4 linked regions of the Homo sapiens genome follow. The protein of the gene in region 3 interacts with the protein of the main gene of each other region in a pairwise test. Each region holds a gene or a part of one and is shown on either strand. Other genes may lie near its edges. The genes, in order: DHDDS, FBLN5, LOX and SOS2.

Evidence for each region.
Region 1: the proteins of LOX (region 3) and DHDDS interact in a two-hybrid assay, tested with the Homo sapiens proteins (one study listed by BioGRID).
Region 2: the proteins of LOX (region 3) and FBLN5 interact in a two-hybrid assay, tested with the Homo sapiens proteins (one study listed by IntAct).
Region 4: the proteins of LOX (region 3) and SOS2 interact in a two-hybrid assay, tested with the Homo sapiens proteins (one study listed by IntAct).

What each region holds. Positions count from the first base shown.
Region 1 is NC_000001.11:26,456,314-26,463,356, reverse strand, and holds part of DHDDS (dehydrodolichyl diphosphate synthase complex subunit DHDDS), read right to left. Parts: intron 5,567-7,043; coding exon 5,452-5,566; intron 3,321-5,451; coding exon 3,213-3,320; intron 602-3,212; exon of another isoform or gene 487-601; intron 1-486. UniProt on the Homo sapiens protein: With NUS1, forms the dehydrodolichyl diphosphate synthase (DDS) complex, an essential component of the dolichol monophosphate (Dol-P) biosynthetic machinery.
Region 2 is NC_000014.9:91,874,691-91,881,733, reverse strand, and holds part of FBLN5 (fibulin-5 isoform 1 precursor), read left to right. Parts: intron 1-315; coding exon 316-442; intron 443-4,051; coding exon 4,052-4,247; intron 4,248-7,043. UniProt on the Homo sapiens protein: Essential for elastic fiber formation, is involved in the assembly of continuous elastin (ELN) polymer and promotes the interaction of microfibrils and ELN. Stabilizes and organizes elastic fibers in the skin, lung and vasculature.
Region 3 is NC_000005.10:122,062,695-122,068,259, reverse strand, and holds the end of LOX (protein-lysine 6-oxidase isoform 1 preproprotein), read left to right. Parts: intron 1-1,510; coding exon 1,511-1,517; 3' UTR 1,518-5,065; downstream 5,066-5,565. UniProt on the Homo sapiens protein: Responsible for the post-translational oxidative deamination of peptidyl lysine residues in precursors to fibrous collagen and elastin. Regulator of Ras expression. May play a role in tumor suppression. Plays a role in the aortic wall architecture.
Region 4 is NC_000014.9:50,158,579-50,165,621, reverse strand, and holds part of SOS2 (son of sevenless homolog 2), read left to right. Parts: intron 1-4,012; coding exon 4,013-4,140; intron 4,141-5,535; coding exon 5,536-6,191; intron 6,192-6,975; coding exon 6,976-7,043.

The sequences.
Region 1 (7,043 bases), on a different chromosome or scaffold from region 3:
TTCTCTGGGGAGTTATATTATCACCTTGATATAGCTAGTTTCACTTGTTTCTATTTCAACATTTGTTTTTATCCCGTCTTCACTCCTCCCCTTCCCTACTGCCACCACCCTACCTCGAGGCGCATCCTCTCTCACCTGGACTACTGCAGGAGTTCTGTCTCTTGGCTTTAACTCCAGCCCGTTGAAAATTCTGAATGATTTTTACAAAATGCAACTCAGATCCCGTCATCCCCTGATTAAAGTCCTTCAGCTTTGTTACCATGACCTACAAGGCTCTATATGAGCCAAGGTCTGACTCTAGCCTCATTTCCTGCCCTTCTCCCTTGGCACATTGACCTCTTTTTTGTTCTTCCAAGACCCAAACTTTAACCTCAGTCTCTTTGCATTCTCTTCATTACTTTCTAGCACATCACTCTGTATTCTTCACTGCCTTATTACAATCGGAACTTATATATTTGTTTACTTGTTTATTTCTGTCTCCTCAAGAATACAAGTTCCACAAAGGTAGAGATCTTGTCCCTCTGGCTACCTGTTGACTCTCCTGTGCCTAATACAGTGCCTGATTCATACTACTCAATAAATACTTATGGAATGAATGAAACTTGAGTTAACTCCTCTGACAACCATATGCAAAGTATCTGAGAAACGTGAAATTACTATAAAAGACTTCTGAGCAGCCCAATTAGAGGTAAAAACACAAAAACTCATGCACCAAGCTCCTTTGGGCTTCATGCAGAGCCAGTTCACTCTCATTTTATATACATAATTCCAACAAGCTTGACTATCTGGTTTCCTTGTCTATAGCTGATTTAAAACAGTAAATACTATGGAAGAGGAGAGATACTGTCAAAATTAACTGTTGACAGCAGTAGGAAATGAAAGAGGGAGGACACAGAAAAATATACATGAAACCTCAAACCCAGGTATTCTGGGACCATCTAACTTAGAGCAAACAGCCCTACCCCTCAAGGATATTGTTGTACAATGAAGTGTTTAAAGATGATAATTACTATTATCATAATCATTAGAATATGACGGCCAGGCATGGTGGCTCATGTCTATAATCCTAGCACCTGGGGAGGCCGAAGCAGGAGGATCACTTGAGCTTAAGAGTTCAAGACCAGCCTGGGCAACATAGTGAGGACTTATCTCTACAAAAAATAACAAAAATCAGCCAGGCATGGTGGTGTGTGCCCATAGTCCTAGCTACTTGGGAGGCTGAAGTAAGCCAAAGTTGCACAACTGCACTCCAGCCTGGGCAACAGAGTGAGACCCTGCTAAAAAAAAAAAAAAACAAAAAATAGCACGTGATTATCCTAATCATCATCATTATTAGCAAGTGCCTGGTATATAGATTTCAATGAATTATGTACAAGATACATTTTAGAAATTTTTCCATCAAAAAAGGGTAAAGTTTTAGTTTTTAGAGGGAGCTTTGGTCATATGGAAAAATCTGATATTCATTCCCCACTGACAGTGGATAATTGTGCCTTTGCTGTTTTTCTTTTCACTAATTCTAAACTTCTTTTAATTTCCTCATATTCTGAGACTAAGTAATTAAATACATGATCAAGTCTTTGTGATTTGATTTACTTATAGCAGGAGTTATGGACTTGGGATTCAGGGGCAGATTTCAGCAGTTATGTGAACCCCCTTAAAGTATTCTATGTGTGGCCGGGCTTGGTGGCTCATGCCTGTAATCCCATCACTTTGGGAAGCCAAGGCGGGCGGATCACCTGAGGTAAAGAGTTCAAGACCAGCCTGACCAACATGGAGAAACCCCATCTCTATTAAAAATACAAAATTAGTTGGGATTGGTGGCGCATGCCTGTAATCCCAGCTACTCGGGAGGGTGAGGCAGGAGAATCACTTGAACCCGGGAGGCGGAGGTTTCGGTGAGCCGAGATTGCGCCATTGCACTCCAGCCTGGGCCGCAAGAGCGAAACTCCGTCTCAAAAAAAAAAAAAAAAAAAGTATTCTATGTGTTTCCATGATAAGTTTACAATTCTATGCAAAATTCCACATTTGAGTGATCTGCGATTTTTCTAGGGAGATGGTCTGTGGCTTTCATTAGATTATTCAAAGGGACCCCAATACCAAGGAGATTAAGAATCCCTGACTCACATCATTATTTCCTCCTGGCATTATCTCTCCAGACTGAAGAAGCAGCACCAGCTTTGATTTTAAAATTCAGGCTCTTCACGCCTGTAATCCCAGCACTTTGGGAGGCCAAGGTGGGCGGATCACCTGAGGTCAGGAGTTCAAGACCAGCCTGGCCAACATGGTGAAACACTGTCTCTACTGAAAATACAAAAATTAGCCAGGCATGGTGGCGTGTGCCTGTAATCCCAGCTAGTTGGGAGGCTGAGACAGGAGAATCGTTCAAACCCAGGAGGGGGAGGTTGCAGTGAGCCCAGATCGCACCACTGCACTCCGGCCTGGGCAACAAGAGCAAAACCCCATCTCAAAATAAATAAATAAATAAAGATAAAATTCAGGTTCCTTGGGACAGTTACTTAAGTCTCTCTGCCCCTCTGGTTCCATATATGAAAAATGAGGACACCAAAACTGCTGGGTTGTTAGGTTAAATAAGAAAACTTACATGAAATCACCTAAGTGCCCTCGTAGATCCTCATATGTTAGCTACCACTACCATTATTATAAAGAGACCTAATCATATACAGGTGACTGCTAATAAAACCTGTTTCAAGATTTGGTGATGAAAACTGAAAGTCAAACTTCAAGTCTTGACACAACATAGGTTTACACAATGGAAAGACAATGCTATTTAGTTCTTAATCCCTACTGCTACGATCTTTTATTAGGGTAATACTTTAAAGGAATAATGGCCAGTTTCTCTGAGAAGCCTTTTCCTCCTGAGTCTTTAAAAGATAAAAGACCTGTAGCTCAAATCCTATTCCTACCTCTTACTGATTATGTGTCCTTAACTAAATCATTTCTGTTTGCTTACTTACATAAGGGAGGGGCTAATAAGACTTCCCTCATTGGGTTCTTGGGAACATTAAATGAGTTGCAGCATGTAAAATGTTCGCAGTGCCTGACAAGTAGTAGATACTCAGTAGGTGGTAGCTACTATCATCATTATCATCATCTTATTAGGAAGTGCCTGGTATATAGTAAGGTGGTTGTCAATCAATGCTAATCTTTTCTTCCATCCCATCCCATCTGGCCAGCCCTGAACTCTTTCTTACCTGAAGCACGCTATGGTTCATCTGGAACTGCAGGATGGCCTCGAAGAGGTTCCAAAATGTATACTCTGGCCACAGAACGGGTTGGAACACCAGGCAGGAGTGAGAGGTCTGGGAAAGGTAGGGAGGAGAGTATGATTTAGTAACATGTTGCTGGGCCGCATCCCTGGTCAGTCCTCCAGGGAAAAAGCAGGCTAAGCAGGACCCAGAAGCCCAGAGATGACAATGTTACAGGCATCCTGAGCTGTAGCTGCAGCTGCTGCTGGCCCTGATTCATTCACTAGTAGGGGGAGGCGTCACTTGAGGCAGCCAGATCACCTGCCTGTGGTAAAGCAGAACTAAAACGAGACTAGATCAACATTTCCACCAGGATTTTTCTAAGAGCCAATTTTAGGACTATGAAATAACATCTGGATTATGTTATTGGCTCTTGGCCCTTAGAGGGCATCTGGAAGACATACTGTCTGATAAAGGTCACCAATGAACAAATGGTAGCTGCCATTGTTATTTTTAAGTACCAGCAGCAGGGCACAGTGGTTGAGAGCATGAGCTCTGGAGCCAGACTGCCTGGCTTTGAATTTTGGCTCCAACCATTTACCATTTATTTGAGCAGGGGTAATTTCACCTGGCCTGAGATTCCTCAAATGTAAAACTGGATAATAGGAATACCTAATTTTCAGGGTACTGTTTAGATTAAATGAGATAACATATGCATAGCAAAGAGCCAGGTGTACTTTAATAATAATCACTGATGAAGAATCCCCTTTGGAACACTCTTGACAGCCACTGCCTGATATCTCTAGTGGTGAGGAATTCAGTACCTCATGGGGGATAACTAGTTGTCCGATAGCCTGTTTGGCTTTTTATGCTAAACCAATGTCACCTTCCCTACAACTTCTACTAAGGTCCCAGGTATTTTTTCTGGAACAAGTTTGTTTCTTCTTCAAAGTGACATTCTTTCAAGTATTTCAAGGCTAGATTAGAGCTGCCTGTTATCAGTTCCCAAAGTTGTAATGACTTGTTCAGAGTTTGTCTTTGCTAGCAAACTATAAGTTTCAAGACAGTAGGGATCATTTCTGACTCACTCACTGCCATATTTCCAGCATAAAGAAGGAACTCAACACTTTTTTCCAAGGGAATACATTGTCACTTATTTCCCTTTTGCAGACCACTATCCTTTCCTCATTTTTTGTAAGACATGAGATTCCTTGCTTTCCAGTTTGGCCTCTTCCAGTAAGTCCTCAAGTTTGTCAATGTAACTAATTCTGTACACTGAGTAACTGACTCTGTAGTCTCTTAAAATTCAGCCCATCAGTAAACTTCCCAAACGTGATCTGAGCAGCACAGTGGGCCACAGAACCAATAGGTGCACATTGTACTTATTTCTTTTCTTTTTTTTTTTTTTTTTTTGCGACAGAGTCTCACTCTGTTGCCCAGGCTGGAGTGCAGTGGCACGATCTCGCCTCACTGCAACCTCTGCCTCCTAGGTTCAAGTGATTCTCCCACCTCATTCACCTAAGTAGCTGGGACTACAGGCACCTGCCACCATGCCAGGCTAATTTCTGTATTTTTAGTAGAGACAGGGGTTCACCATGTTGGCTGGACTGGTCTCAAACTCCTGACCTCAAGTGATCTGCCTGCCTCAGCCTCCCAAAGTGCTAGGATTACAGGCGTGAGCCACCACGCCCTGCGTTAGCTCACTTTTAAGATTGTGGTCCATTAAAATTTCTGGAGCTTTATCATGTGAGCTGCTTCCAAATGGAGTCTCTCCCAGAACAAGGACTTCCCCTAGTTATGTGCTCTCCAGGGACCAAGTTAACAGGGGATAGAGACTTGAGTGTTTGCATATTGTTTACCATGCTTGCATAGGTATGGCCCTTTATCCTGAAGGGGAGGGACTAGTAACTGCAAGGCAAGCTTCCAACCCAGAGGGGCTAGGGTCCCTGGCAGGTTACCAAGGCAAGAGCTTACGCTCAGGGATGCAAGACAGAAGTCCCATTCCTTGAAAAGCGGCACAATGAAGTTTTCACTATAGTTGGATTCGCAAAGCCAGCGACAGATGAGGAATGGACATCAAATATTATGAGACACAGCCTAGAGATGCTTCTCCAGATTTTAGCTTTCCCCAGAAGTACTCTGGCCCCAGCCTGTTTGGGAGTGGGGATGGACCACTCTGATCCATTCTGTGGATACAGTTGGTTTCCCCATGACACAAACATAATAGTACTTGGAAATGACCTACCTGCCATAGCAAGAAGTCACTCAGCCGCACTTCTCCAGAAGTCCGTATCAAGATGTCAGGATGAGGAGAGCGGTTGGTATAGAGGCACTTATCAAGCAGAGACTCAGAGATATCACTAAGATGAGCAAGAAGAGACAAAGAGAGGCACACATCCTGTAGTATTCTCTTTCTGTAGTGTTCTCATGGTGAACTTCCATATATAGGCTTCTCAGTTTATACAATACCATCAAATACACTAGCCAATACTACACAGAAGGCCCTCAAAAAATGTTTGCTAAATTAATGAATGAATTTAAATCTTCACAACTACATAAGGTATTTCTTTTTTTTTTTTTTTTTTAGAGAATACAATGTAAAATTCTTTTCTCTTTTTTATTTTTTGCCTTTTTTGACATGTTCTGATACATAAGGTATTTATTTATTTATTTATTTATTTGAGATAGAGTCTCACACTGTTCCCCAGGCTGGAGTGCAGTGGCACGATCTCGGCTCACTGCAAACTCTGCCTCCCAGGTTCATGCCATTCTGCCTCAGCCTCCCGAGTAGCTGGGACTACAGGTGCCCGCCACCACACCCTGCTAATTTGTTTTTTTTTTTTTTTGTATTTTTAGTAGAGACAGGGTTTCACCATGTTAGCCAGGATGGACTCGATCTCCTGACCTCGTGATCCGCCCCCCCCTCGGCCTCTGAAAGTGCTGGGATTACAGGCATGAGCCACCATGCTCAGCAGATACATAAGGTATTTCTATCCTCATTTTATAGATAAGGAAACTGAGGCTCAAAGATGAATAATTTGCTGAAAGTCATTTAGCCTCAGGCCTAAAACCAGATGCACCCACAAAAATATCTGTTGTCTTTTGCTAAAAACATCTTGTTTTTTAAAATACATACATACATCCTATGGCCCAGTATTTGATGAAATACTATGCAACTGCATTCTAAAAATAAAGATAAATCTAAATGCACTGATTTGGAAAGATGTCCAAAATCTAATGTTAAATGTAAAAGGCAAGTTTCAGAGAATATATAGTATAAAACATACACACACATTCAAACATTCACACGTGCATATAAGTATACATAAAGAACAAAGTCTAAAAAGATACATCATACTATTAACAGTGGATTGGATAAGAAGTAAGGAAGAAAAGACTATTTCTTTTTACTTTATGTACTTCTGTTATTGTTTGAATTTATGTAAATAACTTTTTTTGGCCAGGCGTGGTGACTCATGCCTGTAATCCCAGTACTTTGGGAGGCTGAGGCAGGCAGATCACCTGCGATCAGGAGTTTGAGACCAGCCTGGCCAACAAGGTGAAACCCCATCTCTACCAAAAGTACAAAAATTAGCTGGGTGTGGTGCCGCATGCCTGTAGTCCCAGCTACTTGGGAGGCTGAAGCAGGAGAATCGCTTGAACCCAGGAGGTGGAGGTTACAGTAAGCCCAGATTATGCCACTGAACTCCAGCCTGAGTGACAGAGCGAGGCTCTGTCTCAAAACAAAAAAAAACAGAAAACATATTTTATTTTTTTTCCAGACAGGGTCTCCCTCTGTTGCCCAGACTGGAGTGCAGTGGTGTGATCTCAGCTCAC
Region 2 (7,043 bases), on a different chromosome or scaffold from region 3:
CCGGTCTTGAACTCCTGGCTTCAAGTGATCCTCCTGCCTCAGCCTCCCAATGTACCGGGATTACAGACGTAAGCCACTGTGCCTGGCTCACATTATTTCTTGGTACTAAGTCATCAAAATCTGGTGTGTATTTTCTACTTACAGCACATCTCAATTTGGATCAGCCACATTCCAAGTACTCAGTAGCCACATATGGCCTGTTGCTGCCATATTGGATAGTACAGCTCTGTAGTAAGATCCAGCCTACCCCACCCCCACGCGTCTGGCCTGGCCAATAATGCCCTGCCTCCGCTTCTTGTCTCCCCTGCATTTCAGACATCAACGAATGTGAGCACAGGAACCACACGTGCAACCTGCAGCAGACGTGCTACAATTTACAAGGGGGCTTCAAATGCATTGACCCCATCCGCTGTGAGGAGCCTTATCTGAGGATCAGTGATAAGTAAGTCACGGCGTCCCCCTGGGGAATAGAAACCTGATGAGGGCCTGGCTCAGGAGGTTGGAGGTGTGGTGTGAAAGAGAGTGCACCAGCCAGGAAGTGAGGGGACCTGGCCTACTACCTACGTCATGTGCTCATGCGTGTGTGTGTGTGTGTGTGTGTGTGTGTGTGTGTAGAATAGAACAGAGTAGAATAGATAGAACAGACTGGAATAGAAAATATCAGAGTACATTGCACATAGCAAGAGTCAATATTGTTTTTTGAAACTTATCTTTTAGTTTTGTGTGCTACTGGTTTGCAGTGCAAAGTGTGTTACTGTAGGTTGTCAAAAAGTTTGCAAAACATTCCATTCCAAGTTATAGGGTCTGAAACACATCCCTATATACAAGAAAGAACTATTTTTCAAAATGTTTGACCACAACACACAGTAAGAAACACATGCAAGGCTGGGCACGGTGGCTCATGACTGTAATCGCAGCACTTTGGGAGGCTGAGGTGGGTGGATTGCCTGAGCTCAAGAGTTTGAGAGCAGCCTGGCCAACATGGTGAAACCCCATCTCTACTAAAAATACCAAAAAAATTAGCTGGGCCTGGTGGCACGGGCCTGTAGTCCCAGCTACTCAGGAGGCTGAGGCATGAGAATCGCTTGAACCTGGGAGGAGGAGGGTACAATGAGCTGAGATCGTGCCACTGCAGTCCAGTCTGGGTGACAGAGTGAGACTCTGTCTCAAAACACACACACACACACACACACACACACACACACACGCACGCACACTCCCACAGAGTTCTCTATCACTCCGCTACTCATGCCAGAGCTATGCAAAGATTCTCTAGAAAGCTAACCAAGCCGAGAGTTGAGTCAGGGTTCTAGAATCTCCTCTTCCCTCTAATGACTTTGTTCTGGATACATGGGGTCTTTCAGAGGTTGGCTTCTAAATGTAACACTCATAGGACTCACCTGGTGATCTCGTTAAAGTGTGATTCAGTGGGTTTGGGGTGGGGCCCAAGATTCCGCCTTTCTGGCAAGCTCCCAGGTGAAATGAATGCTTCCAATCTCCCTGGACTGCTCCGTGAATATTGAGGTGCTGGAGAGTTGAGTATTGAGGTGCTGGACAGTTGAGTATTGAGGTGCTGGAGAGTTCTCTCGTTGGTGCTAATCAAGTTTCTGACGTCATCTTGGTCAACATTTTACTAAATCACCAGACGGCAAATATTAGAGTTGAGGAGAGAATTAAAGTGAAGACAACTTCCAAAAGGTGAATGCAGTAGGACAGTGGCTTTCTGTTCCTGGCATAGTAGGAGTTCCTTTTCCTTCTCTTTTATCCCTTTTTTAAACCATCTCAGTTCCTCCTTGGCCTCCTATATTCCAAATGTTCACACATCGACTTCCCTTGAGCAACACCAAACCCCGCATGGGAGACGAAAGGATGAATCAGACACACCCATCCTGCCCTCTCGGAATACAGCCTCTAAGAGAGGAATTCATGGCTTACCAGTGGTACCCACTTTGATAACAAATTGGCAAAAGAGAGGATAATGCCGGGACAGGCGGATCCTTTAGGGACATCTTCACTTGTTGCTAAGAGCTGTGCTACTAAGCAACCCTTTAGAACAGGGCTCTTTGACCCCCGACGTAAGGCCTGTTTGTGGCAGAGCAGAGCTCCAGGCTGCTCTTCCCAGCTTCTATTCCTGGTTCTCTCTGGGTTTTTCCAGGCCACCCCGTCTGTGGCTGGGGAGCTGACCCATTTCAGCTTGCAGCACTGAGCTGGAGTTACTGGTGGAGTCTCTGGCATGACGCTGACAATGCTCCGTGACTCCCTCACTCCAGGCTCCAGTCCAGTCAGACTCCGGCAGCCCCTTCCAGCTCCTTGTCCAGTTCAGGTGTCCTGTGCTCCTGCCAGTCTGAACAGGACTTGCTCATGCCTTTACCCGTGCCCAGGAATGGCCAGCCTCCCTTCTTGTGTGCACATACTTCCGGCCATATGGAAGGCATTCCTTTCATTTCCACATAGCCAGTCCTGCCCCATCTTTCAGATTTCAGCTCAGATGCCACCTCTCCCAGCTGTTTGTGGTCCTCTTCAGCTGGGAGCCATCACTCCCTCCTCCAAACTTCTTTTAGGAAACAATGATTTTCTATGCTGCACATGATACTTTATTGTGGCCATTTTGGCACTAGAGACATTTTGACTTGGCTATTTTGATGCAGCCTTAAAAAAATGAAACTTGCTCTGCCACCCAGGCTGGAGCGCAGTGGTGCAATCACAGCTCATTGAAGCCTCAACCTTTTGGGCTCAAACAATCGTCCTGCCTCAGCCTTTTAAGTAGCTAGGACTATGGGTGTGTGCCAGTGCTCCTGGCATATATATGTATTTGGTAAAGCCAGAGGTCTTGAACTCCTGGACTCAAGTCATCCTCCTGCCTCAGCCTTTCAAAGTGCTGGGATTATAGGCATGAGACACCATACTCTGCTCAGAATGAATGGAAATTTATAAAAAGGAAGAGTAGGCTGGATGGTTTAGATGGAGGAGTCCAAAGGCCTCTCTGAAAAATGACACTTGGGCTGGAATGGGAAAATGAGTTGACTTTAACTAAATAGAGAGTGGAAGATCAGAAGGAACAGCATGTGCAAAGGCGAGAAGGCAAGAGTGCATTGAAGGCACTGGAGATGGTTGGATGTGGACTCTCTTTTGGAAGTAGAACCAACAGGTTTTGTGGATAGATTGGAAGTTAGTGGCAGAAACACAGCAAGGTTGACTCCTAGCGTTGGCCACCACCGCGCGTCTCAACAGACATCTTCATCCTATTGTGAACCCTGGCCCCTAGGTGGAGTCTCAGGGCAGGGTCAGAGACAGAGGAAGGGGGTGTTAGGGGTGAATCAAGGGGTGTCTATAACAGGCATTCTTTGGTAGTAAAAGTCAGTGATTTTATATTAGGGCACTCTGTTAATAGTTGCTTTGTATTAGAGATATTTGTGTCTGTGGTTTATTTCTCCTATTAGAAAGTAAACTATCTGAGGTCAGGATCTTATTATTCATTGAATTTCCAAAATGTCCAATGTCACATCTTGTACATAGTTCTAACTCTTGCTTATCAATTATCGAATGACAAGATTTGATTATATTCGATTCAGTAACATTCCATGCAGACTGGGCTGAGCACAATAGAGAATGTACAAGGATCCCCAAGACCTGTTAATCCAGTTTCTTACTTTAAAAATTTCTTTCTTTCTTCCTTTTTTTTTGTTTTGTTTTTTTGAGACAGGGTCTTGCTCTGCCGCCCAGGCTGGAGTGGCATATTTGGCCTACGTGGCAAATGTAAAGTATCTTGGAGAATGTTCTAATGTTCTGAAAACCAGAGATCTAAGGTTTGTATTCTATTTAGTAGCCAGAACATCTGGTTGGTGAGAAAAGTCCATTCTCTAGGAAACAGAGCTCGCCTACATGCTGGAGAGATTTTAGACTCAAGCCAGGAGCAGAGACATTCTACAGTTATGGCATTTGGATGCTAAAAATGGGGTGGCCTCATTTTCAGTGTTTTAAGAGAGGAAGTAGGCACAGCCAGCACCTGGAATGGATTTCTTGAGTTCTCACGTGATTTCCCTTTCCACAGCCGCTGTATGTGTCCTGCTGAGAACCCTGGCTGCAGAGACCAGCCCTTTACCATCTTGTACCGGGACATGGACGTGGTGTCAGGACGCTCCGTTCCCGCTGACATCTTCCAAATGCAAGCCACGACCCGCTACCCTGGGGCCTATTACATTTTCCAGATCAAATCTGGGAATGAGGGCAGAGAATTTTACATGCGGGTAAGAGGGAGTGGGGAGTGGGGACGCCATCTGTAACAGTGGCCTTGTGCTGTCTCTCCTAGGAACGTGCTGTATGCAAGCAGGTAAGAGTGGGGCTGGGGGACAGGTAGGCAGAGAGAAGAGTGGAGGGTGTGGTTCAAGGTCCTGGTTTCCACCACTTTCTGTGTAGTCTTGCAAAAGATGCTTCTCCTCCTGAGCCTCAGGATCCTCATCTGTGAAATGGGAAGTTAGGCCAAGATGCAATCTTAGGTCTCTTTTCTCCTAATATTCTGTTGGAGAGGCATTCACGTCTCCACTTTTCAACCAACCCATGTGACAAGTATTTCTTAAGTACCTCCTATGCAGGCCAGGCACGGGGGCTGATGCCTGTAATCCCAGCACTTTGAGAGGCCAAGGTGGACAGATTGTCTGAGCTCAGGAGCTCAAGACCAGCTTGGGCAACATGGCAAAACTCTGTCTCTACAAAAAAAAAAGTTAGCCGGTCATGGTGGCAGGCACCTGTAGTCTCAGCTACCTGGGGCAGTGTGGCGGGGAGGTGGTGTGAGATGGGAGGATTGCTTGAGCCCAGGAGGTCGAAGTTGCAGTGAGCTGAGATCACACCACTGTACTCCAATCTGGGCAACAGAGCGAGACCCCATCTCTGAAAAACAATAAAAACTTGGTGACTTAAGGCAAAGGAAATTTATTCTCTCATAGTTCTGGAAGCCAGGAGTCTGAAATCAGTTTCACTGAGCTGAAATCCAGGTGTCAGCAGGGCTGTGCTCCCTCTGGAGGCTCTAGAGGAGAATCCGTTCCATATCTCTTCCAGCTTCCGGGGGCCGCCAGCACTTCTTGACTGTGGCTGCATCACTCCAATATCTGCCTCTGTGGTCACGCTGCCTCCTCTTCCTCCTCTGTGTGTATCAAATCTCCCTTTGTCTCCTTCTTATATTAACACCTGCGAGTAGATTTAGGGCCCATTCAAACAATCCAGATAATCTCTCTGTCCAGATTCTTAATCACATCTGCAAAAACCCTTTTCCTTATAACGGAACGGGTTCCAAGGATTTAGGACTTGCATCTTTTTGGGGGCTACTACCCAGCATACTGCACCCAGGAATCTGCATTTCTAACAGATGCTGCTGTGATCTTCCAGGGTCACTGTGGGGAGCCATATTGAAAAGGTCCATGGGCGTTTATATGCTTTCATTAGAGACTGGGCCCTATGAAGTCATGGGCCACAAGGCAGGAAGACAGAAATCTTCCCGATAAGGCTGGCTTTCCGAGGGTCCATGCTGTCTGAAGCTGCGGGACCCTCCCCGGGAAACCACTCAGTCATTCTAATGTGAGCTCTGGAGCCATGTCTTCTACAGTTTAACAATTTCACAATTGTGTGATGTGACCTAACACCTCTGGACCTCTAGATGAGTGTTTACTTTAGGATTAGATGAGATTATCCACTTAGTGCCCTATCTGGAATACAGTTTTTATCAAAGAAGTGGAGTTTGGTGGTGGGGGTGAAACAGTCAATGACTTTTTCTTTTTCTCACGCTGTTGGATCAAACCTGTGAGCACCTGGGTTACATCTCACGTCAATTCCCTAGGATTCACAGGCATGTTCCATTTCTATTGGATTGTCTCATTCTCTCACGTCAAAAGTCTGTACTAGTTTAAATGGAAACTTCAACCTCTCTGTCTCTTACCCACTGTGAAGTTTCTCCCTGTCTCCTAGTTCAGAGCAGGCAAGGGGTGTGGTTGGCCTCTGCCCTGTCCTCTTGTCACCCTCCCGGTAATGGTAGTGCTGGCCCTGGCTCCTCCAGGGCTGGCAGGGGAGGAGCAGGTGGTAGAAAGGGTAAGGCTGGAAGAGTGAGGCTCCTCCCCGATTGTAGCCATTGTAACCAGGCATTGGTATTCCCTCAGGAGCAGAGCCCCCAAAGCTGTTGCTCTCACAGGGTGCTTTTGTGGGTCTTTTGGAGATTTGCCTGAGGACTTCACACTGACCAGTCCCTGATATGGGCAGTAGGGCCTGTGGTTGGTCACCTGCTACTCCAAACCTCTCAGCCCCTAATTCTGGGGCTATGTCTCATACAGATGTGCCGTGGTGGTAGTGAGGTGGAGGGTATCACTGCATCCTGGCAGCAGACCTTACACAAGGGCCTTTCAGGATGTCAACATCAGCTCCTTGCATTCCCCGTTCCTCTCTATGGTGTGGGGCAGCTCAGGGCTCACATCTCCAGACTTCTCCTGGAGACAGTCTGGTACCACTTTCTGCATCCTTGAACTTCAGGGGCCTGCATCTCTAAACAGTTTTTCTTTTTTTGAAAACCCCTCTTGATTGAGATGGAGGCTAGTAAGTGTGTTTAATAAAATATATGTAGAGTTGGGCACAGGGGCTCATGCCTGTAATCCCAGCTACTCTGGAGGCTGAAGTGGGAGGATCCCTGGAGCCCGGGAGTTCAAGTCCAGCCTGGGCAACATAGTGAGACCCTGTCTCTACAAAAAAAGATTAAAAAATTAGCCAGGTGTGGTGGCATGACCTGTAACCACAGCCACTCTGGAGGCTGAGATGAGAAGATAACTTGAATCCAGGAGTTCAAGGCTGCAGTGAGCTATGATTGCACCACTGCACTCCAGCCTGGGTGGCAGAGCGAGACCCTGTCTCTAAAAACAAAAACAAACAAACAAAAAAGTATGTATGTAGGCTGGAGGGGGTGATGGAATGAGGGAAACATCTGGCTTTGGATCACAGCTTTGTAAGTCCTGTATAACCCCAATAACTCCACACACAGCATCAGCAGCAAGCCGTGTATAGTGCCT
Region 3 (5,565 bases):
TTGCTCCAGCAATATGACTGTACAAGAGGGATTCCTGATGTGGTCACTCATATAGAGTTGAATTTTTTTTTTTTTTTTTTTTTTTACTAGTTATTACTGACTGTAACAAACTTCAAGAGTGGTTGAAGCTGGAATGTTTATAACTAATATAAACCAGATGAAAATATGAAAAGTGAAATTATAATTAGTGATCATAATAAAATGTCATACTTATTCTGAGTGGAAATATTGGGGAAAGTATAGAATATTTGAGAAAAAAACCCCACACCTTCAGGATAGTAATACTTGCTTCTTACATTTTGACTTTCACATCAGGCCTTCCTTCCTAGGAATCAGAGTTCAGACAGAGGAGAGGTCTCTTTGGGCTGAGTTTCAGGAGTGACTTTAGGATACATTTGAATTGAGCCTTGAAGTCTGGGGAATGCACCGGGGAGCATTAAGGAAAGGAAGCCCAGGGCAAGTCAACGTCACAGGCAACTTGCATGGCAGGAGGAAACTGCAGGGCATGTTTGGAAAAACAAGTCTTCTAGTTTGGCTAAAGCATGAATTTTGTGGAGTTACGAGTTGGACAAAAAGGATGGAAAAGTAAGTTGAGCCAGATGGAAGACAGCCCTGAAGAGCAGGCTAAAATTTATTCTGGAGGCAGTGGGAGGCTGAAGCTTTTTGAGCAGGAAGTGTAACTTGCCTAAGGCCATCAGGTCAGTCTGGTGGCTGTGTAAGCAGCAGTGAGTGTGACTCTGAAGACATATCATGTATCAGTTCACTGATTGCTTTTCCTGCCAGATATTTAAGAGCATTCTGTTGATGTGTAAAAGCCACCCAGTAAATAGTTGAATAGGTATGTGCTGTTAATGTACCCTCTCTCCTTCATTTTCCTCACTGAAACAAAATGTACGGACCAGGTGACTCTGAGGCTTCTTTCAGTTATAAGATACTATGTAAGTTTTTTTTTTTCTCCTCACAGAATTTACTGTTTGGAAATTGGTAGTTTATGATTTGAATAAGTGAATTTTCACTTCCTTACATGAAGATCTATGGTCACATTTAAAGACAGTAATATTTGATTGATTAGCTTTGGTCCAGTTTCTGCCTATTAATGTATTATTCTACATCCAAAGCCATGCTGGAGAAGGACTAATTCAAGATGGAGCAGAGGCCTTGACTCTACTTCTTGGTGGACATGCCACCCTTGTTCCATGGAATGAATTCCCCTGGTCAGGGATGCTGGTCCCAGAAGTCCTGCTGTACTCTTGAGTGTTTCAGAAGTGGTTTCTTTGCCTCTAAATGTGAAGAGTGTAGGCATCAGGCATCTCTGCTGTTGACATAGTCACTTTCTTCAAACCATTATTAAAATGATGTACTACTGCATAATTTCACAACATGATTGCTGCTTAGGTGGAGGGAAACTGTTGCATAAAGTTTTTAAAAGGTTGACTTTAAATTTGTCTGTTGTACTCATTCATTATATTATCAGGTTAATAATTTGTCTTATTTTGTCTTCTTAATCTAGGTATTAGAAGGCAAAGCAAAACTCCCAATGGATAAATCAGTGCCTGGTGTTCTGAAGTGGGAAAAAATAGACTAACTTCAGTAGGATTTATGTATTTTGAAAAAGAGAACAGAAAACAACAAAAGAATTTTTGTTTGGACTGTTTTCAATAACAAAGCACATAACTGGATTTTGAACGCTTAAGTCATCATTACTTGGGAAATTTTTAATGTTTATTATTTACATCACTTTGTGAATTAACACAGTGTTTCAATTCTGTAATTACATATTTGACTCTTTCAAAGAAATCCAAATTTCTCATGTTCCTTTTGAAATTGTAGTGCAAAATGGTCAGTATTATCTAAATGAATGAGCCAAAATGACTTTGAACTGAAACTTTTCTAAAGTGCTGGAACTTTAGTGAAACATAATAATAATGGGTTTATATATGTCATAGCATAGATGAATTTAGAAACAATGCTCCTACTGTTTAAATACATATGGACACATCTGGTGCTGAGAAAGAAACAAACACATTACCATTGGTGTCAAGAAATATTACTATATAGCAGAGAAATGGCAATACATGTACTCAGATAGTTACATCCCTATATAAAAAGTATGTTTACATTTAAAAAATTAGTAGATAACTTCCTTTCTTTCAAGTGCACAATTTCATTTTGACTTGAGTCAACTTTTGTTTTGGAACAAATTAAGTAAGGGAGCTGCCCAATCCTGTCTGATATTTCTTGAGGCTGCCCTCTATCATTTTATCTTTCCCATGGGCAGAGATGTTGTAAGTGGGATTCTTAATATCACCATTCTTGGGACTGGTATACATAAGGCAGCCGTGAAACTGGAAAGTCATTTTGATGACTGATGTGATACATCCAGAGGTAAAATGCATTTAAACATATTAAAGTATTTGCCAAAGATACAATTTTCTTGCTGACATAAAAATCACACAAACAAGTCCCCCCCAAACCACAACTGTCTCTCAAATAGCTTAAAAAAATTGAAAAACATTTTAGGATTTTTCAAGTTTTCTAGATTTTAAAAAGATGTTCAGCTATTAGAGGAATGTTAAAAATTTTATATTATCTAGAACACAGGAACATCATCCTGGGTTATTCAGGAATCAGTCACACATGTGTGTGTGTCTGAGATATAGTCTAAATTAGCAAAGCACATAGTATTACATACTTGAGGGGTTGGTGAACAAAGGAAAAATATACTTTCTGCAAAACCAAGGACTGTGCTGCGTAATGAGACAGCTGTGATTTCATTTGAAACTGTGAAACCATGTGCCATAATAGAATTTTGAGAATTTTGCTTTTACCTAAATTCAAGAAAATGAAATTACACTTTTAAGTTAGTGGTGCTTAAGCATAATTTTTCCTATATTAACCAGTATTAAAATCTCAAGTAAGATTTTCCAGTGCCAGAACATGTTAGGTGGAATTTTAAAAGTGCCTCGGCATCCTGTATTACATGTCATAGAATTGTAAAGTCAACATCAATTACTAGTAATCATTCTGCACTCACTGGGTGCATAGCATGGTTAGAGGGGCTAGAGATGGACAGTCATCAACTGGCGGATATAGCGGTACATATGATCCTTAGCCACCAGGGCACAAGCTTACCAGTAGACAATACAGACAGAGCTTTTGTTGAGCTGTAACTGAGCTATGGAATAGCTTCTTTGATGTACCTCTTTGCCTTAAATTGCTTTTTAGTTCTAAGATTGTAGAATGATCCTTTCAAATTGTAATCTTTTCTAACAGAGATATTTTAATATACTTGCTTTCTTAAAAAACAAAAAAACTACTGTCAGTATTAATACTGAGCCAGACTGGCATCTACAGATTTCAGATCTATCATTTTATTGATTCTTAAGCTTGTATTAAAAACTAGGCAATATCATCATGGATACATAGGAGAAGACACATTTACAATCATTCATTGGGCCTTTTATCTGTCTATCCATCCATCATCATTTGAAGGCCTAATATATGCCAAGTACTCACATGGTATGCATTGAGACATAAAAAAGACTGTCTATAACCTCAATAAGTATTAAAAATCCCATTATTACCCATAAGGTTCATCTTATTTCATTTTTAGGGAATAAAATTACATGTCTATGAAATTTCAATTTTAAGCACTATTGTTTTTCATGACCATAATTTATTTTTAAAAATAAATTAAAGGTTAATTATATGCATGTATGTATTTCTAATAATTAAAAATGTGTTCAATCCCTGAAATGTCTGCCTTTTAAATATAACACCTACTATTTGGTTAATTTTGACGATTTTTTTTTTTCAATTAGGAAGCTAAAAATACTACTTTATTCCTTATATGAACATTCATCCCCCTCCTGGCACCTCTAAACACACCCAAATAACTCACAAGTACTGATTTAACACTCTGTATTACTGAACTTCTTTGAACTATTTTGAACTTTGAATCTCTTCTCTGAATAACTGCCGAAACTCAAAGATAATAATTAGTTGATGAAGGTTATCAATTAATAAAATAACACAGACCAGTCTTACCAAACTCTAAATACATTTTAAAAAATAGGAACTGGCAATGATAAAAAGAATGTTGAGTACTGACAGGAGATTGGCTTTTACACTAAAAAAGACAGAAAATGGACTAAATAGGAACATAATTTCAGAGTTTATGAGTCAGTTTACAATATGCCATATTAGCGATCTCATGATGATTCAGACCACAGTCTGGGTTAAAGATGTCTTGACCTCTGAGGCTAGCATAACATATATGAGAATACAACTTGCCTATTTCCAGAAAATCTGTATATTTTTATAGAATAACTTTATTTACAATTTCTATCATCCAATTACTCACTAGGCATTATTTGTAGTACTTTTTTTCTCTTTGAAATCTCATAGGATAGTCACACTTATAAACATTCCCAATATTCGGATTCTAGAAGAAATGCAATTCATTAAAATTTTCCTGGCACTGAGAGTTAATCTTTAGCAGATTGCATGAAAATACTGAATTCCTGGTAAGGAGATATTTTGTTTTAAAAATAATGTGTTTTGATACGAATCAGTGTATTAACTGATAACTAAAAAGTACTCTTTTTTCTATATATACATATTTTTTTGAACTCATATTCACAATCAACATATTCAATCAGTGAGTTAAGTCTCATTCCTAGCTACCAAAATTCCTGGGCCACTTTTAAACACTAAACATTTCATTTATCCTCTAAGCTAAAATGGTGCTGAGTTATTTAAATCTGAATGTAAAATGCATTAAATCTTAGCTTGTGGTATATAAACATTTAATTAATATAAAACTGCTTGCTATAAACTAAGTAACATGTCATTTGGTGTTAGGTTTTTAGTGAAGTTTTAGCTTCTCCCAAATTTTTCAGGAATGTTATTTGTAAGACGTGTAACTTTTTTGAAGAACTCTTATTTTAAATGCTCAGACATTGGCTTTATGTTCCTCTTTGCATTCTCATATTCTTTTATTATACATCTATACTATGATTGCAAGATTATATAAAAATGCCTTGAATAAATGATTTCAAGTGTCTATAGTAGTCATTTGTTGTTATATAAATAAATCATCTGATTTTCATTTTAGTTGAAATGTTATAAGCCATGGATATGGTGTTAGTTTCTCTTAATTGCCTTTTGTACTAAAAAATTGTTTAATTAGGTCACACTGGAAATTTGTCTATGATGGATAAAAATCTAGCTGATGTTTTAAGTAGACACTGTCATACATAAACTTTTATCACCAGTACCAGCTACTTATAAGGACACAGAGCAGGCATTGCAAGAACAATCACACTGCTTTAATTAAGGTTTACAAGAAATATATCTGACTATAGATATAAACACACACATACACACACACACATCTAATTCTAGCTACAAATTATTTGTATAAAGAGACACATTGCTATCATAGTAATCCTTATTTAAATATGCACCAGATTAGCCTGAAATCTGGTAACATGAGAGGGCAAACAGGCCCAAACTTTGGGCAAGTGTTTTGGGGGAACAACTCACAAAATTAACCCACAAAAA
Region 4 (7,043 bases), on a different chromosome or scaffold from region 3:
GAAGAAAATAGATGTCAAACAAATAATTACAATATTATAAGAGCCTAATAGAGGTAGTACTATGAGATCAATGAAGCAGGAGTTACTAGCTCTGCTTAGGGAAGGCAGAAAAAAATTCCTATTGATTTTTCCTTTGTTCAGTGGAGTAAAAAAAAATACATAATGGTTTTGGGTATTCGTCCTACTGAGAGAGAGAACAGTGTGTGCGCGGGTGTGTGTGTCCTTATTTATTTGCGGGAGTCATGAAAGACAAATGCTTAGGAACTCTCCAGAATAAAAGAGACAATAGAAACATGACAATTTAGTGCTTCACTGACCAGTTCCTGTTTTGGGGGAAAATATTACCTTAAAGGATGTTATTAAAACAGTTGGCAAAATTGGAATATACACTATAGATTAGATTATGCAGTAGATTACTCGGTGTTAAATTTCCTGAAGTTGATCACTATACTGTGATTCTGTAAAAGAAAATCCTTGTTGTAAGATGAGCTATGAGAAATATTAAAGGAGTAAAGGAGAATGATACTATTTGAGAGTAATTTGTGATACATTTGACTTTTCCTTATATTCCAAAAACTACTGCAAAACCATTCAGCCGTAGTCCCCCTTCCTCTGGAAGGAACTGAGTGGATAGTATCACAACTACTAAAAAAACGATCTGCACACACTGGCACACAGAATGATGAAGCATGTGACAAAATGTTAAAAATTGGTGATTCAGAGTATTACAGGAGTTATTTGTGTTACTTTTACAACTTTTCTATAAATTTGATATTTCAAAAGAAAAAATTTAAGAGGGAAAAGGCATAATCAGAAGGCATCTTCAAGAGGAAGCATTTCAACTGTATCCTAGTGGCTAAATTCACCGGGTGGATAAGGAGGTCAGAGACTGTTGTGTAGAAAGCGAATGGGGGCATGAAAGTACATTACTTGTTTGCACATAGTTCAGTACAGTAATTTTTCTTTTCTTTTTCTTTCTTTTTTTTTTTTGGAGACAGAATCTCGCCTTATCACCCAGGCTGGAGTGCAGTGGTGCTATCTTGGCTTACTGCAATCTCCACCTCCTAGGTTCAAGTGATTCTCATGCCTCAGCCTCCTGAGTAGCTGGGATTACAGGCATGCACCACCACGTCCAGCTAATTTTTTTTTGTATTTTTTATTTTTATTTTCATTTTTTTGCGGGGGACAGAGTCTCACTCTGTCACCCAGACTGGAGTGTAATGGCACAATCTCAGCTCACTGTATTCTCTACCTCCCATGCTTAGGTCATCCTCTCACCTCAGCCTCCCAAATAGCTGGGACTACATGTGCACATCACCACGCCCGGCTAATTTTTGTATTTTTTGTAGAGACAAGGTTTCTCCGTGTGGTCAGGCTGGTCTTGAACTCCTGGGCTCAAGTGATCTGCCCGCCTTGGCCTCCCAGTATGTTGGGATTACAAGTGTGAGCCACCTTGCCTGGCCCAGTAATTTCTGTGTAAGATGTTTGGAACACATTCTTTTAAGTATCTGTAGAATATTAGTTGGATATTCATTAATATGATGTTTATCAAATCTCACTGCTGAAAATTCAAGAAATATTTAGCAAATTATCAGATTATTATGCCAAACAGAGCCGTTGTTTAATATACTTCCATTACCAGGAAATCCCACTCTAAATATCCTCAATTTTGTTCTCCTTTACAGCTTATAATTATTACATGGTTATTTAAAAATGACACGTGGAAGAGTTTGAGCAGCCTTAAGACCAAGTAGACAATGAAAATCATACCTTTTTGGTAGGATATCACTACTGGTGATAATTTAGATATTTGGATAAACAAAAACAAGAATAAAACAGTTCTAATTAAGTGTTTGATGTCATCAACATTCATATTTATTAAAGAAATATTTTAGAGTGGAGCTGAGAAGACTTTCTGTAAGAAATCTTTAAAGCAGCAAAATAAGTGATTTTGCCAGTAACTTTCACCTGTAGAAGTCAGAATAACCAAGCACAGATCTTTTTTCAAACTTTCTATGATATTTTGACTTTGCTTCCATCCTTTCTATTGCTTAGTCTAGAGATTAAGGTATTACTTCTAATAATAGTCATTTACATTATTTATGTTGCTAATCTCTTGATGACAAGACCTCTACATGTGTCTTGAAATAAAATCAAATGGCTCTGTGCTTCATATAGAGACTAATTTCTAAGACATAAATAAAAGGTAATGGACAAAGTTGTCAAACAATAGCCAGTTAGTTCTTTGCTGAGGAAAGGGAACCATTGCTGAATGCTTTTGAGATTGCTCTTGGAATATAAGGAAAATTTTAATTTATCACAAAATCTCTAATAAGTTAAAGATCACAAAATAGATTTAAGTTTTTAAAAATTTTCTGAAGTGATCATAATTCCCCATATCCTTGCATAAATATATATTTATAAATACATAATATATATAATATCTATATGATGTTCCACTTTGAACTCTTCTTTCAAAAGATTAAAACAGTTTGAGGGCAGCCTGGGCAGCATAGTGAGACCCCATCTCTACAGAAAAATTAAAAAAAAAAATTAGCCAAGCATGGTGGCACACATCTGTAGTTCTAGCTACTTGGGAGGCTGAGATGGAAGGATCACTTGAGTCCAGGAGGTTGAGGCAAGGCTGCAGTGAGCCATGATCACCTCACCGTATTCCAGTTTGGGTGACAGAGTGAGACCCTGTCTCAAAAAAAAAAAAAAAAATCAAAACATTGGAGCACAATACAATACAATCTGAATTATTTATTATAAGTAAATTTGCTTTCTTTCTGAGAGTGAAATACAAGAGAACATTTTGGGGCAAATGAAATAGAACCAGAGTTTTAGAGATTAATAAGTCAGTTTCTAAATCTTCTAAAGATTGAGATAGAATTAATTTTCATGGTTTCTTGACATTTCATATTGTAAAAAATAGCAGTGGAATCCTTTGAGAGATGCTGTTTACGGAAAAGTTTATGATAGATTGAAGTGTTAAAAGTTAGTACCCTTGATTATGTTATATAACAAAGATTTGTAAACTTGAAATTGCTAAAACAAAGTAATCATTAGAGAATATGAAATAGTTTATAGTTACTTATTTTCTCTATTCATAGTTGCTAATGAATAAAAGTAAGTTGTAAGCTTCATGCTTTAGGTGTTTTAAACTTTTTAAATATGTTTGGAAAATGTGGCCTGGCACAGTGGCTCACACTTGTAATTTCAACACTTTGGGAGGCAGAGATGGGAGGATAGCTTGAGTCCAGGAGTTTGGGACCAGCCTAGTGAGACCCTATCTCTACAAAAAATAAAAATAAAAAAATTAGCTGGATGTGGTGGCATGCAACTGTGGTCCCAGCTACTCGGGAAGCCTTATGCCCAGGAGATCGAGGCTGCAGTTAGCCCTGCCACTGTATTCCACCCTTGGTGACGGAGTGAGTAAGACCCTGTCTCAAAAAAATAAAAAATAAAAATAAAATGTCCGAATGGTTTTTACAGTTGCTTTTTTTTTTCCTGATTACTATGCTCATGTTAGTTTATATCTGTATTGTGTTTATGTTTATAGAAAGAAGGTTGGGCCAGGACTGGTGGCTCATACCTGTAATCCCAGCACTTTGGGAGGCAGAGGCAGAAGGATAGCTTGAGCAGGTGTTCAAGACCAGCCTGGGAGACATAGCGAGACCCTGTCTCTACAGAAATTTTAAAAATTAGCTGGGTGTGGTGGCATTCGCCTGTGGTCTCAGCTACTTGAGAGGCTGAGAGTGGAGGATCATTAGAACCCAGGAGCTCAAGGCCACAGTGAGTGAGATCCTGTTTCAAAAAAAAAAAAAAAAAAGAAAGAAAAAGGGTTGGTTTGAGAGGGCAGTAGGTATATATAAAATTATAGCTGTTTTTATTAAGTATATATAAAATTAACTTAGAGTTGATAATATTTGTTGCTGCTTTTTCTATTACTAGAAAGTTGGGGGAAGAATCAAACAATGCAGTTTTGATTTTTCTTTCTGTTTTTTCTTAGCAATTGAAAGCATGTAGTGAAGAACAAGAAGACAGAGAATGTTTGAACCAAGCTATTACTGCTCTCATGAATCTCCAAGGTAGCATGGACCGAATTTACAAGCAGTATTCACCTAGACGTCGACCTGGGTAATTCCAAAGTGTTGAAAACGTGAATGCCTCTGCTTACTTCGCTGTCTCTGATGCCTGGTTTTCAAAGAAGTGTGATTTATTGTGATAGTTACATTATTGAAAGTTGTGCTTGTCATACTTTTATATACTTTTATGTTGGTCTTTTACTCTCTTTTTTCCTTTTCCTTTCCTTTTTTTTTTTTTGAGAAGGAGTCTCTCTTGCCCAGGCTGGAGTGCAGTGGTGTAATCTCAGCTCACTGCAACCTGCAGCCTTAGCCTCCTGCGTTCCAATGATTCTCCTGCCTTCGCCTCCCAAGTAACTGGAACTACAGGAGCCCACCACCATGCCCAGCTAATTTTTGTATTTTTAGTAGAGACGGGGTTTTACCGCGTCGGCCAGACTGGTCTCAAACTCCTGACCTCAGCCTCCCAAAGTGCTCGGATTACAGGTGTGAGCCGCTGCGCCCAGCCTTTTTTTCTTTTTTTTAAGAGACAGGGTCTCACTCTGTTGCCCAGGCTGGAGTGCAGTGATGTGATCTCAGCTCACAGCAGCCTCAACCTCCTGGGCTCAAGCAGTCCTCCTGCCTCAACCCTCTGGAGTAGCTGGGACTCGAGTAGCTGGGTGGCACATGCCAACACACCTGCCTAATTTTTGTATTTTTTGTTGAAATAGGGTTTTGCTATGTTGCCCAGGCTGGTCTTGAACTCCTGGGCTCAGGTGATCTGCCTGCTTTGGCCTCCCAGAGTGTTGAGATTGCAGGTCTGAGCCACTGCACCTGGCCAACCCAGCCTAGTCTTAAGATTAGCATTGTTGGCTGGGCACGGTGGCTCACGCCTATAATCCCAGCACTTCGGGAGTCCAAGGTGGGCAGATCGCCTGAGGTCAGGAGTTTGAGACCAGCCTGGCCAACATGGTGAAACCCCATCTCTACTAAAAATACAAAAATTAGCCAGGCGTGGTGGCAGGCACCTGTAATCCCAGCTACTCGGGAGGCTGAGGCAGGAGAATCACTTAAACCTGGGAGGGGGAGGTTGCAGTGAGCCAAGATCGTGCCATTGCATTCCAGCCTGGGGGACAAGAGCTCCAAAAAAAAAAAAAAAAAAAAAAAAAAAAAAAAAAGATTAGCATTGTTATATTATTAGGATAGACTTAATAAATGTTTAAAAATATAATCTATGAAAGAAATTTAGGATTTTTTGTAATTTTAGTTCTTATAGAGCCAGTAGTACTTCTCTTTCATAATAATGAAATTGAGGGCTGTATTATTTAGTGGCAAAGTTAGAACTAAATGCTGTGCGTAAAAGCTACTGTTTGGTTATTTAATATTTTACTCACTTGATTTGAGATGGTTTATGCTTGAAACCATTTGGGTTGCTAGCTGTTGAATAAGCTATATTGTTTGTTTTTTCTAGAGATCCTGTTTGCCCTTTTTATAGTCACCAATTAAGAAGCAAACACCTGGCTATCAAAAAAATGAATGAAATTCAGAAAAATATCGATGGATGGGAAGGCAAAGATATTGGACAGTGTTGTAATGAATTCATTATGGAGGGACCATTGACAAGAATCGGTGCCAAACATGAACGGCATATTTTTCTGTTTGATGGCTTAATGATCAGTTGTAAACCTAATCATGGCCAGACTCGGCTTCCAGGTTACAGTAGTGCAGAATACAGGTTAAAAGAAAAATTTGTCATGAGGAAAATACAAATTTGTGATAAAGAAGATACTTGTGAGCACAAGCATGCATTTGAATTAGTATCCAAAGATGAGAACAGCATAATATTTGCTGCTAAGTCTGCTGAAGAAAAAAACAACTGGATGGCAGCCCTTATTTCTCTTCATTATCGTAGTACTCTAGATCGAATGTTAGATTCAGTATTATTGAAAGAAGAAAATGAGCAACCACTGAGATTACCAAGTCCTGAAGTATATCGTTTTGTAGTAAAAGACTCTGAGGAAAACATTGTTTTTGAAGACAACTTGCAAAGTAGAAGTGGCATCCCCATTATTAAAGGAGGAACTGTAGTGAAATTAATTGAAAGGTTAACATATCATATGTATGCAGGTATGTGAAACTCATTACAACTGCTGACCTAGGGCCTGGGACCCAAAAGCTTTTTAAGGATGCTCAAAAATATTTGAGGCTTGGGGAAAAAATGGATTGCCTCCAAAATATAAAAATACTGCAAAAACAAAAGGAATAAATAAGAGAAGGAATTAAAGGTCTAAAAATGTAATATTGTTAACTTCATTAATTATTGAATAAATATTCATAAAATATGCATATTCATGAATTTTTTTTTTTTGAGACAGAGTCTTGCTCTGTTGCCCAGGCTGGAGTGCAGTGGCGCTATCTCTGCTCACTGCAAGCTCCACCTCCTGGGTTCACGCCATTCTCCTGCCTCAGCCTCCCGAGTAGCTGGGACTATAGGCGCCCGCAACAATGCCCGGCTAATTTTTTTTTTCTTTATTTTTAGTAGAGATGGGGTTTCACCGTGTTAGCCAGGATGGTTTCGATCTCCTGACCTCGTGATCCGCCCACCTCGGCCTCCCAAAGTGCTGAGATTATAGGCGTGAGCCACCTCACCCAGCCATATTCATGAATTTCAAATTTGAAAACAATCCTCGCTTATTAAGGATATACCATAGTATATTCTCTATGTCAGTATTTCTCTATGTATGGCAGGGATACCATGGTATCCTGCCAGTACCATGATTGTTAGGAAAAGCCACAATCTGAGGAGCCAAAGTAAAAAGAAAAAGGGAGGAAGGCCTCCAAATATGGTACTTTGAGTTAATTAAACTGAATACATTAAACATGAAACCTATTTTATGCTCTGCCTTTTCAGATCCCAATTTTGTTCGTACTTTTCTTACCACATATCGTTCATTTTGTAAACCACAGGAATTGCTGAGC